3 linked regions of the Homo sapiens genome follow. The protein of the gene in region 2 purifies or fractionates together with the protein of the main gene of each other region. This does not show direct contact. Each region holds a gene or a part of one and is shown on either strand. Other genes may lie near its edges.

Evidence for each region. Proteins that work in one complex are often made in the same cells at the same time.
Region 1: the proteins of AGPAT2 (region 2) and CLN3 purify together in Homo sapiens (affinity purification with mass spectrometry; one large-scale study listed by BioGRID and IntAct). This does not show direct contact.
Region 3: the proteins of AGPAT2 (region 2) and ATP12A purify together in Homo sapiens (affinity purification with mass spectrometry; one large-scale study listed by BioGRID and IntAct). This does not show direct contact.

The regions. Positions count from the first base shown.
Region 1 is NC_000016.10:28,476,694-28,479,445, forward strand, and holds the end of CLN3 (battenin), read right to left. Parts: intron 1,185-2,752; coding exon 1,044-1,184; intron 943-1,043; coding exon 823-942; 3' UTR 586-822; downstream 1-585.
Region 2 is NC_000009.12:136,677,382-136,680,985, forward strand, and holds part of AGPAT2 (1-acyl-sn-glycerol-3-phosphate acyltransferase beta), read right to left. Parts: intron 176-3,604; coding exon 42-175; intron 1-41. UniProt on the Homo sapiens protein: Converts 1-acyl-sn-glycerol-3-phosphate (lysophosphatidic acid or LPA) into 1,2-diacyl-sn-glycerol-3-phosphate (phosphatidic acid or PA) by incorporating an acyl moiety at the sn-2 position of the glycerol backbone.
Region 3 is NC_000013.11:24,693,889-24,697,492, reverse strand, and holds part of ATP12A (potassium-transporting ATPase alpha chain 2), read right to left. Parts: intron 3,050-3,604; coding exon 2,915-3,049; intron 1-2,914. UniProt on the Homo sapiens protein: The catalytic subunit of a H(+)/K(+) ATPase and/or Na(+)/K(+) ATPase pump which transports K(+) ions in exchange for Na(+) and/or H(+) ions across the apical membrane of epithelial cells.

The sequences.
Region 1 (2,752 bases), on a different chromosome or scaffold from region 2:
TAGAACAGGGTGGCGCATACTCAGGATGATTCACTGCACAATTCTTTCCACTTCTCTGAAAACTTTCATGCTGGAAAGAATGTCCAACATGATTGTTTACAGATTGTCCCAAACAATGAATGCATGAATGAATGAATACGTAAGGCCTCAAAGATGGCAGAGGCCAGGTACAGTGGCTCACACCTGTAATCTCAGCACTTTGGGAGGCCAAGGTGGGCGGATCACCTGAGGTCATGAGTTTGAGACCAGCCTGGCCAACATGGCAAAATGTCGTCTGTACTAAAAATATAAAAATTAGCCAGACATGGTAGTGACCACCTGTAATCCCAGCTACTCGGGAGGCTGAGGCAGGAGAATTGCTTGAACCGGGAAGTGGAGGTTGCAGTGAGCCAAGATCACGCCATTGCACTCCAGCCTAGGTGACAGAGTGAGACTCTGTCAAAACAAACAAACAAACAAACAAACAAACAAAAAAGGGAGAAATCTGCTGACATACCTTCTTTATGCTGTCTATATATAGGAAAGTGGGCATGTATTACTTTCATAATAAAAGTTTCTTTTTAGAGACAAAAACGATATAAGAAGTCCATGGATAAAATCGGCATTTATTCAGAAGGCATGATGCCAGGAAGAAACTCCCCAAGTGGGAGACAATGGCTGGCCCCCCTGCAAGGGAAACAAGGCTTCAGCCCTTCCCTACTCCCAGACCTGCCGGGAAGGCTGGGAGCACAGTTCATGGAGGGTCTCTGGGGTGGGCCTGGGTGTCTGACCTGTCCCTCTGCCCACAGGTGAATGTGACCTGCGTCCTGAGGATCCCGAGTATCAGGAGAGCTGGCAGAGGAAGTCATGCAGAGGCAAAGCCAGGAGCCCCGACAGGGAGATCCCCAGTGTGTCAGAGATGCAGGTGGCCGCCATTGCAAACTCCCGGTGCTCATCACTGGTCTGGGAGGGCAGAGAGCAGGGGTGAGGCTTCAGTCCCAGACATCCCTGCCCTGGGTGTCCCTGGACAGGCCACCCCCAGCCCTTGCCCGGCCAATGCTGACCTCCAGGGCGATGTTGTGGAAGGTGTTCACGTAGGCTGCGCCTCCCAGGAGCCCCTCATACAGAATGATCAGGAAGACGAGGTAGATGCTTGGCAGAAAGCCGAACCACACGTCTGCCAGCAGGAACACCAGGTTGAGGCACTGTGAACAGGGGGAGAGGCTAAGCCTGGGACCAGGGCGGGGCAGGGAAGGAGAGGTGGCCTCCCCTCCAGGGGTCCCTGGTTTTAGGAGTTACTGGTGAAGGAGAGGGCTGCCAGGTCTAGATAAAATCTCAACACCAGCCCGGTGTGGTGGCTCACACCTGTAATCCCAGCACTTTGGGAGGCTGAGGTGGGCAGATCACCTGAGGTCAGGATTTCGAGACCAGCCTGGCCTGGTCTCTACTAAACATGGTAAAACCCCATCTCAACTAAAAATACAAAAATTATCTGGGTGTAGTGGTTCTGTAGTCCCAGCTACTTGGAAGGCTGAGGCAGGAGAATCACTTGAACCTGGGAGGCAGAGGCTGCAGTGAGCCAAGATCGCAGCACTGCACTCCAGCCTGGGCAACAGAGAGAGACTCCATCCCAAAAAAAAAAAAAAAAAATTCTCAACCTCAGCCTGGTGCAGTGGCTCATGCAGGTAATACCAGCACATTGGGAGACCAAGGTGGGATGATCACTTGAGGCCAGGAGTTCGAGACCAGCCTGGGCAACATAACAAAACTCCGTCTCTACAAAAAATTTAAAAATTAGTTGAGCATGGTGGCACGCACCTGCAGTCCCAGCTACTCGGGAGTCTGAGACAGGAGGATTGCTTGAACCTAGGAGGTGGAGGCTGCAGTAAGCTATGATTGTGCCACTGCACTCCAGCCTGGGTGACAGAGCAAGATCCTGTCTCATAAAAAAAAAAAAAAAAAAAAAAAAAAAAATGGAGGCTTCTTAAAGGAAGTGGGACCATCGAAACCAGGATTTCTCAATTGCAGCACTCTTGGCGTTTGGTGCTGGTTGTTCTGCATGGTGAGGGCTGTCCTGTATATGGCAGCGCATTTAGCAGGATCCCTGGCCTCTGCCCGCTAGATGCCCATAGCATCCCTCAGTTGTGACAACCAAAGCATGCCTGCAGACGTTGCCAAACATCCGCTGGGCAGCAAAATTGCCCCTATTGGAAAAACCGTTGGTTCACTATGGTAAAACAAGGTGGGAGTAGCCGGGCATCCTATTCAGCTGGGCTCGAACTCCTGGTCTCAAGCAGTCGCTGCCCCCCTGCCTCAGCCTCCCAAAGTGCTGGGATTATAGGCAGGAGCCACCGCACCTGGCCAGGAAGCCTCTTCGATCCCCACCCCAGGGTGTAGGTCCCACCTCTGTGCCCCAGTCTCTCAAGGAGGTGCCATCCTCCCAGCACTGACCACGCCACATTGCCTCTTGTGCAGTGTGTAGGCCTCCTCGTGGCGGTTCATACTTTTCGTATATGTAAGAATTGCCTGGGGATCTAGGTACAAATGCCCCAAGCGGGGCTTACCCTAGAGGTCCTAATTCATTAAATCTGAGGTAGACTTAAAGATGAGCATTAAAAAGGACACACCTCTAGCCAGGTGTGGTGGCTCACACCTGTAATCCCAGCACTTTGGAAGGCCAAGGCGGGTGGATCACCTGAGGTCAGGAGTTCAAGACCAGCCTGGCCAACATGGCGAAACCCCATCTCTACTAAAAAATACAAAAATTAGCCAG
Region 2 (3,604 bases):
CCCACTCAAACCCCAGAAGCCACCCCCGAGGCCCGGCCTACCCATCATGTCCAGGATGCTCTGGTGGTTGGAGACGATGACACAGGGACGGGCCTCCTGCAGCCTGCGCGGGTCCCGCACCTCGAAGCGGAGCCCGTAAAAGTACTTGAAGCTTCGCACGAACCAGCCGATGATGCTGCAGGGGAGGCCACCATGAACACGGGTCCCACAGATCCCGCAGCCGAGGCTGGGGCGCGAAGGCCTGGGGGTGGGGTGTGGAGGAGGCTGGGGAGGGGCCCTCCTGGCACGGGGCAGGAGACCGGGAGACACAGGGGAGGGAGCCCCTGAAGCGGACAGAGTCCCGGGCCCGGCTCACCCACCTGGACGGCTGCCCTGCCTCCGTCTCCCCAGCAACAGAGGAAAACCCAGAGCCTCTGGAACTCGGATGCTAGGAGCATGGGAAGGCGCCCACTTCCAAATCCACATCCAGGGCCCACCCAGCCCTCATCCACCCCACAGGGGACCCAGCCGGAAAGGAACTGGCACTGGCTCTCACGTCCGCTATGAAGGACCCACGTCGGGGAGAGCAGCCTCTGCACCCCAGCAGAGGAAATGGGGCCCCACACACCCTGGGGAAGGTCACTGGCCCCTCAAGGCAGGGCCACATCAGGAAGAAAGTGTCGGCGCCAGTGGAGACCTCTGAAACGACCTCCGAAAGGTTCTTCCAGAAAAGAGCCGAGACCGAGACCCTCTCTCACCCCTACCCTACAGAATCAGGCCGGTTCCCTTTCCCCGTGAAGAGGCGGCGAGGGGCTCGGGGCTTGTCTGAGGTCACACCAGGAGCAGCAGCAGAGCCAGGGTCTGGGCCACCTGAGCCCTGGCCACAGCAGCCCCCACTCTGGCAGGGGCCCAGCCCACTGGGGGCTGCCCTTGGAGCACCTGCAAATGTGAGGTGGCCTTGTCCAAGCAGCCCGTCATGGTTGGGACCAGGGATGTCCAAGGGGTACCCGAAGACTCTGACCAGCTCCGAGCGTCCCAACCTCTGCCCTGCTGTGCTGCCAGGAAGCTCTGGGCACACCCCAGATAGGGCACCCCATCACAGGGCAGCCGGCGGGGATGGAGCCAGGAGGACGGAGCTCCACTCCGAAGCTCCAGCAGGGGTGGATGGCCGGGGCAAGGCTGTGCCAGCGCTGACTGGGGGGCTGCCAGTGCTGCTCCCCTCTCCATGCAGACTAGTGCCCCCCACCATTTGATCCCCCAGCAGTCCTAAGGGCCCCACACTTTCTACAGATGAGTCTGAGTAACTGCCCCAGGCCACAGAGCAGAGATTCAAAGCCGGGGCCTTCTCTCAAAGCCATACTGGTGGGGATTTTTGTTGTTTTAACAGGGTCTTGCTCTGTCACCCAGGCTCCCCTTGCTCTGTCTTGCTCTGTGACACAATGTGTCACATTGTGCAGTGTCACAATCTGGGCTCACTCCAGCCTCCACCTCCTGGGCTCCTCCCACCTCAGGCTCCTGACTAGCTGGGACCACAGACGTGAGCCACCACACCTCGCTAGTTTTTGTATTTTTGGTACAGATGGGCTTTCACCATCTCTGGCCAGGCTGGTCTCGAACTCCTAGGCTCAAACAACCTGCCGACCTCGGCCTCCCAAAGTGCTGGGCTTACAGGCCTGAGCCAACTCGCCCGGCCTTTAAAAAAAAATTGTGGTAAAATACACGTAACATAAAATGTATCTCCTTGGCCTTTTCCGGGTGCACAGTTCATGGGCGCTGGGCACATTCGGTGTCTAGCAGCCATCTCCTCCCTCTATCTCCAGAACTCTCCACCTTCTCTGGCTGACGTCTGTTCCCATGCGACACAAACCCCTGTCCCCTCCCCAGCCCTGGCACTCTGCCCTTCCATGTGTGAGCCCAGGCCTGCGGCAGCACCACCTCAGGCTGATGGGGCAATGCTCATGACCCCCTGTTGCAGATGGGGAAACTGAGTCAAGGGGGGCCTAATGGTTAATTCTGGTGATGAGTCCAGCCGTCCGTCCCTGGACTTGGAAGCCTGGGGCCTCCTCAGATCTGCCTTCCTCAGCCAACTCTAGATATCTCCTCTCCAGGCCGCGCCGGCCACCGTCCCCTCCCACCCAGAAGGCACACCCGGGCTGGTAGCACCCGCACACTCAGGGGAACTGCAGGGCTGTTTTGCCTCCACACTCATTTGCGCAATCCAGCTTCCCGGACCCCTGTGACGCTCCAAGAAGACGAGGAGGCAAAAGCCGGCAGTTCACCAACAGGAAACACAGAACTGTCTGGTGCTAGCAAGACGGCCGTGTCGCCAATCAAAGAAGCGCAAATGGAAACAAGAGACTGTCCTCATCCTTCCCCCTGGCACAGATTAAAACGCCTGATAACAGGAGGTGCCAGCCAGGGTGTTGGGAACAGGCCCAGCGGCTGGCAGGAGTGAGGAGTCGCACAGACAAGATACTTCTGTGGAGGGCAGGTTGGCAGGCCCGGCCAGAGCCCTGAGGAAACCTGGCCCCTCCCCTCTCAGAATCTTCCAGGAATTCGCCCGACGGCTGGAGTGAGAAGCCTGTGGTGCTGAAGTGTGCAGTGAATTAGGAAAACCTGAAAATGCTTAAATAGCCACCAGTAGAAAGAGGGAAAGTAAATTAGGGTCCATTTCACAGACAGCTGGGGCGCGGGGAAAGAACAGGACAGGTCCACACTCATCTCCTGTGAAGGACATGTGTATGATTTCTAGCAGCAGCCAAGACACACCTGCAATTCCAAAGCTAGCTGCCTGCAGGAGGCTCGGGCCACATCTGAAAGGGACATTGGTTCCCTCTGGTAGTGACATTGGCCAGTTCCATCTTTTATTTACTTTTTTATTTTTGAGACAGGGTCTCACTCTGTCACCCAGACTGGAGTGCAGTGGTGTGATCTCAGCTCACTGCAACCTCTGCCTCCCGGGTTCAAGCAATTCTCCTGCCTCAGCCTCCTGAGTAGCTGGGATTACAGGTGCCTGCCACCAGGCCTGGCTAGTTTTTGTATTTTTAGTAGAGACGGGGTTTCACCATGTTGGCCAGGCTGGTCTCGAACTCCTGACCTCAGGTGATCCTCCCACCTCGGCCTCCCAAAGTGCTGGGATTACAGGTGTGAGCCACCGCGCCCGGCCAGCTAGTTTCTTAGTGTTAACAACTGCATCTTGGTGATGTAAGATGTTAACAAGGGAGGAAACTGGTGAGGGCCACATGGGGTCCCCCGTAATATCTTTGCAACTTCTCTGTAAATCTGAAATTATTAAAAAATAAGATCTTCATTTATTTTTTATTTTTTTTGAGACGGAGTCTTGCTGTCACCTAGGCTGGAGTGCAGTGGCGAGATCTCAGCTCACTGCCATTTCCACCTCCCGGCAAGCGATTCTCCTGCCTCAGCCTAGCAAGTAGTTGGGACTACTGGTGTGCGCCACCACACCCGGCTAATTTTTGTATTTTTAGTAGAGACGGGGTTTCACCATGTCGGCCAGGCTGGTCTCAAACTCCTGACCTCATGATCCGCCCGCCTCGGCCTCCCAAAGTGCTGGGATGACAGGAAGGAGCCAGCGCGCCGAGCCCTCCTCTGTTTTGATTGTGGT
Region 3 (3,604 bases), on a different chromosome or scaffold from region 2:
AATTTCGTTTTTTGTTTTTTTTGTAGAGATAAGGTCTTGGTATATTGCCCAGGCTGGTCTTGAACTCCTGGGCTCAAGCAATCTGCCTTCTTCGATCTCCCAAAGTGCTGTGATTACAGGTGTGAGCCACTGTACCTGGCCAAGATAAGGCTTTTTACATTTAAAACATAGGGATAATATGAAACACTTTTATGGTATGTACCACGTGCCAGGCACTGTTCTAAGTGCTGTCCACATCGACTTATTTATTCTCAAAACAACTTTAAGGCCATGGGTACTATTATTATTCCCTTTTACAAAGGAGGAAACTGAGGCACAGAGGTTCAATGCTTCACTCAGGGTCACTGAGCAATAGGTGGCTATCTGGTGGCTGAGCTGGGATTTGAGCCCAGGCTAGCAGGCTCCAGAGTCCCTGCCCTTAATCATGGTGGCTACAAAGGATAATCTTTTAAATTAAATACATTCATCTTTATATAAAACTTTATAAAACATTTTCCAATTTGCCGTAAACTGTTTCAAATGTCTTAACAGACCAGTGTGTTTGGGGCATCACCATTCTAATCAATAAGACACAGGCTTTCCATTTTATTTCCTTCCCGCAGAGACGTCTCCTTCCAAGGCCATGACATCTAAAGCCCTGGTGAGGCTGAGCACCGCTCATGTGTAGATATAAAATGACCCTAACAGCATCCAGACAGCACCTCCGACCTCTTCAGCAGGAACTCACACAGCCCCTCTCCCCTTTCTTTTTTTTTTTTTTTTTTTTTTTTTTTTGAGACGGAGTCTCGCTCTGTCGCCCAGGCCGGACTGCGGACTGCAGTGGCGCAATCTCGGCTCACTGCAAGCTCCGCTTCCCGGGTTCACGCCATTCTCCTGCCTCAGCCTCCCGAGTAGCTGGGACTACAGGCGCCCGCCACCGCGCCCGGCTAATTTTTTGTATTTTTTTTTTTAGTAGAGACGGGGTTTCACCTTGTTAGCCAGGATGGTCTCGATCTCCTGACCTCATGATCCACCCGCCTCGGCCTCCCAAAGTGCTGGGATTACAGGCGTGAGCCACCGCGCCCGGCCCCCCTCTCCCCTTTCTAGTCCCACTCTGTGTAGCCACTTTCTCCTCCAACTTGTACATGAGGCCTCATGGAACCTGCTTTTTCTCCCTTTTGCAACTGGGCATGCCTTTACCTTGGGAGATGGAGCTTCAGCAGGGCTCCAAGTCCTGCTGCTGATGGAGGCATCATCTAACCCCATCTTCACACTGTGCACTGATGCGCGGCACCTCAACCTCCTCATCCTCTAGCCACCCCACAGTGTTGTCGTGCGAATGAATAATTTAATACTTGTGGAAATTAGCACAGAATAGCTCCTATTATCACTAGTATTATTAGTATAATAATACTCATCCTAAAACAGTCTTTTAGGACTGTTGCGCACTCTATTTTCACTTTGGTTTTACGTAAGAGATGTGGTTTCTTGGCTTGAGTATTTTACATCATATGTTTCTGGTTAGTTGTCTATTTAGCTAACTGTGATTCTCTGTTGGCTCACTATCCACAAAGAAGACATTTGCAACACAAGAGTTCTTCTCTAGGCTGGGCTTGGTGGCTCACGCCTGTAATCCCAGCACTTTGGGAGGCCAAGGCGGATAGATCACCGGAGGTCAGGAGTTCGAGGCCAGCCCAGCCAACAAGGTGAAACCCTGTCTCTACTAAAAATACAAAAAAATTAGCTGGGCAGGGGGTGCATTCCTGTAGTCCCAGCTACTCAGGAGGCTGAGGCAAGAGAATTGCTTATACCTGGGAGGCGGAGGTTGCAGTGAGCCGAGATCGTGCCACTGCATTCCAGCCTGGGTGACAAGAGTGAAACTCCTTCTCAAAAAAAAAAAAAAAAAAAAAAAAGAGTTCTTCCCTAACCCTAAATTCCATCCGAACTAAGACAGGTGGATAATCACCAGAAATCTCCACACGTACAGTTGTGGTTATTCCATTTCTATACTTTACTGTTGTGCAAAGCCCAAGTCCAGATCCAGTGTGGGCTCTGTGGAAAATCCCATCTGCATGGGGACCTGGGGCTCCCAACTGTCATTTGTCTTAACATGGGGAGGCTGTGATGGCTGACTGTCGGCCAGCCCTGCTTGCTGAGATAACCAGGCAAGGAAGGCCGTCTTCTACCTGAGCAGGGGATGGAAAGGAGACCCCCACCCACAGCACAGGGGCTGGCCCCAGAAAACGACGGGGCTGTCACCCCAGGGGCTGCTCACCGGTCTCCCCAAAGGGCAGGGCTTGCTCCCATGGCCTGAACTGTGCCGCACTCCCTCTGTGTGATGGTGGAAGAATCGTGGACCTGGTGTCAGGCTTGGGAACACTGGGTGCTGTGTGACTCTGGTCTCTCAACACTTTCTAAGGGCCTGCTTCCTCCTCTGAGTCAGGATTCGTCAGTCCTACCTCACAGGCCGGATGCGAACATGGAACAAGGCCACGTAGGTCGAGGGCCTGATGCACTAGAGGTGAGAGGAGCAGGTGTTCGGCCTCCCTGCTGCCCACCTGGCATTTATGCTTTGGAGTATGGCTGCTGCTCCTCACGGCAGAAGGTACCTGATAGTGGTGGTGTGAGTGTGTGTGTGTGTGTGTGTGTGTGAGAGAGAGAGAGTGTGTGCCTGTGACAGAGATGGCTCATTCATAGGAGCAGCCAGGCCCTGATGAAGTCCTTGCCTTTCTTTCTTTCTCTGCCCTGCTTCAGGGTTAGGAAGGAGGCCAGCAAGGGAGCTTGACCTAGGGGACCAGATGCCTGGGTGCTGTATCCCTGACGACTGTCTTTGAAGCCAGGTATCCTTCAAAATATGAGGTAAGCAAAGGATGCATGCAAGTAGAAAGGTCATGCTGCCGATGACAGAGATTACCGGTTGTGAGGAAAAACTCACCTGAAATTTATTAGTAGAGTTAAAAGGGATTTCAGCTACTTTGCGGTTTCTTTTTCTAATTTCCATCACATCACCCAAAATGACCTCTGAGAATTTTAAAAGAGCAGTTTCTGAGGCATCTCCAATCACAGCTTTCTGGGAATCAAAGAAGAAAAATATTTGCAGCACATATTTAATGAACCAACATGCCCTCAGCATAGGACCCAAAACACACCCTCCTGATCCCATTACCACCTAGCTGGAGAGACATTATCACGTGATCAGGGAGGGCCGCAAGACCGTGGTAAGCGTGTAAACAACAGTGCCACCTACTGGCATTAGGGATGTTTGGAGAAGCTGGACCTCTGCGAGGACTGAAGATTTCGTGGAAAAAAGCAGCTACGAACTAGATCTTGATAGATAGGTGGGTTACCGATACACAGAGAAGAAAGCCTTCCAGAAACCAGGATGCGGGTGCAGGGGCATGAGGGGCAGGCTCGTCCGTGAGTGTTCAAGGTACAAGCGGATGTGGAGGGTGTGGCAAGACCTGGAGGGCCCTGAAAGGTAGCCTGAGGTCTAGACTTGAGAAGCAGAAAACAGGGAAGTACGGAGAGATTTTGAGCAAAGTTAAGTGACTATAAAAGCACCATTAAGGGAAATTAGTGGCATTCGAGAAAGACCCCAGGAGGGATAAACCGGAATCAAAGAGGT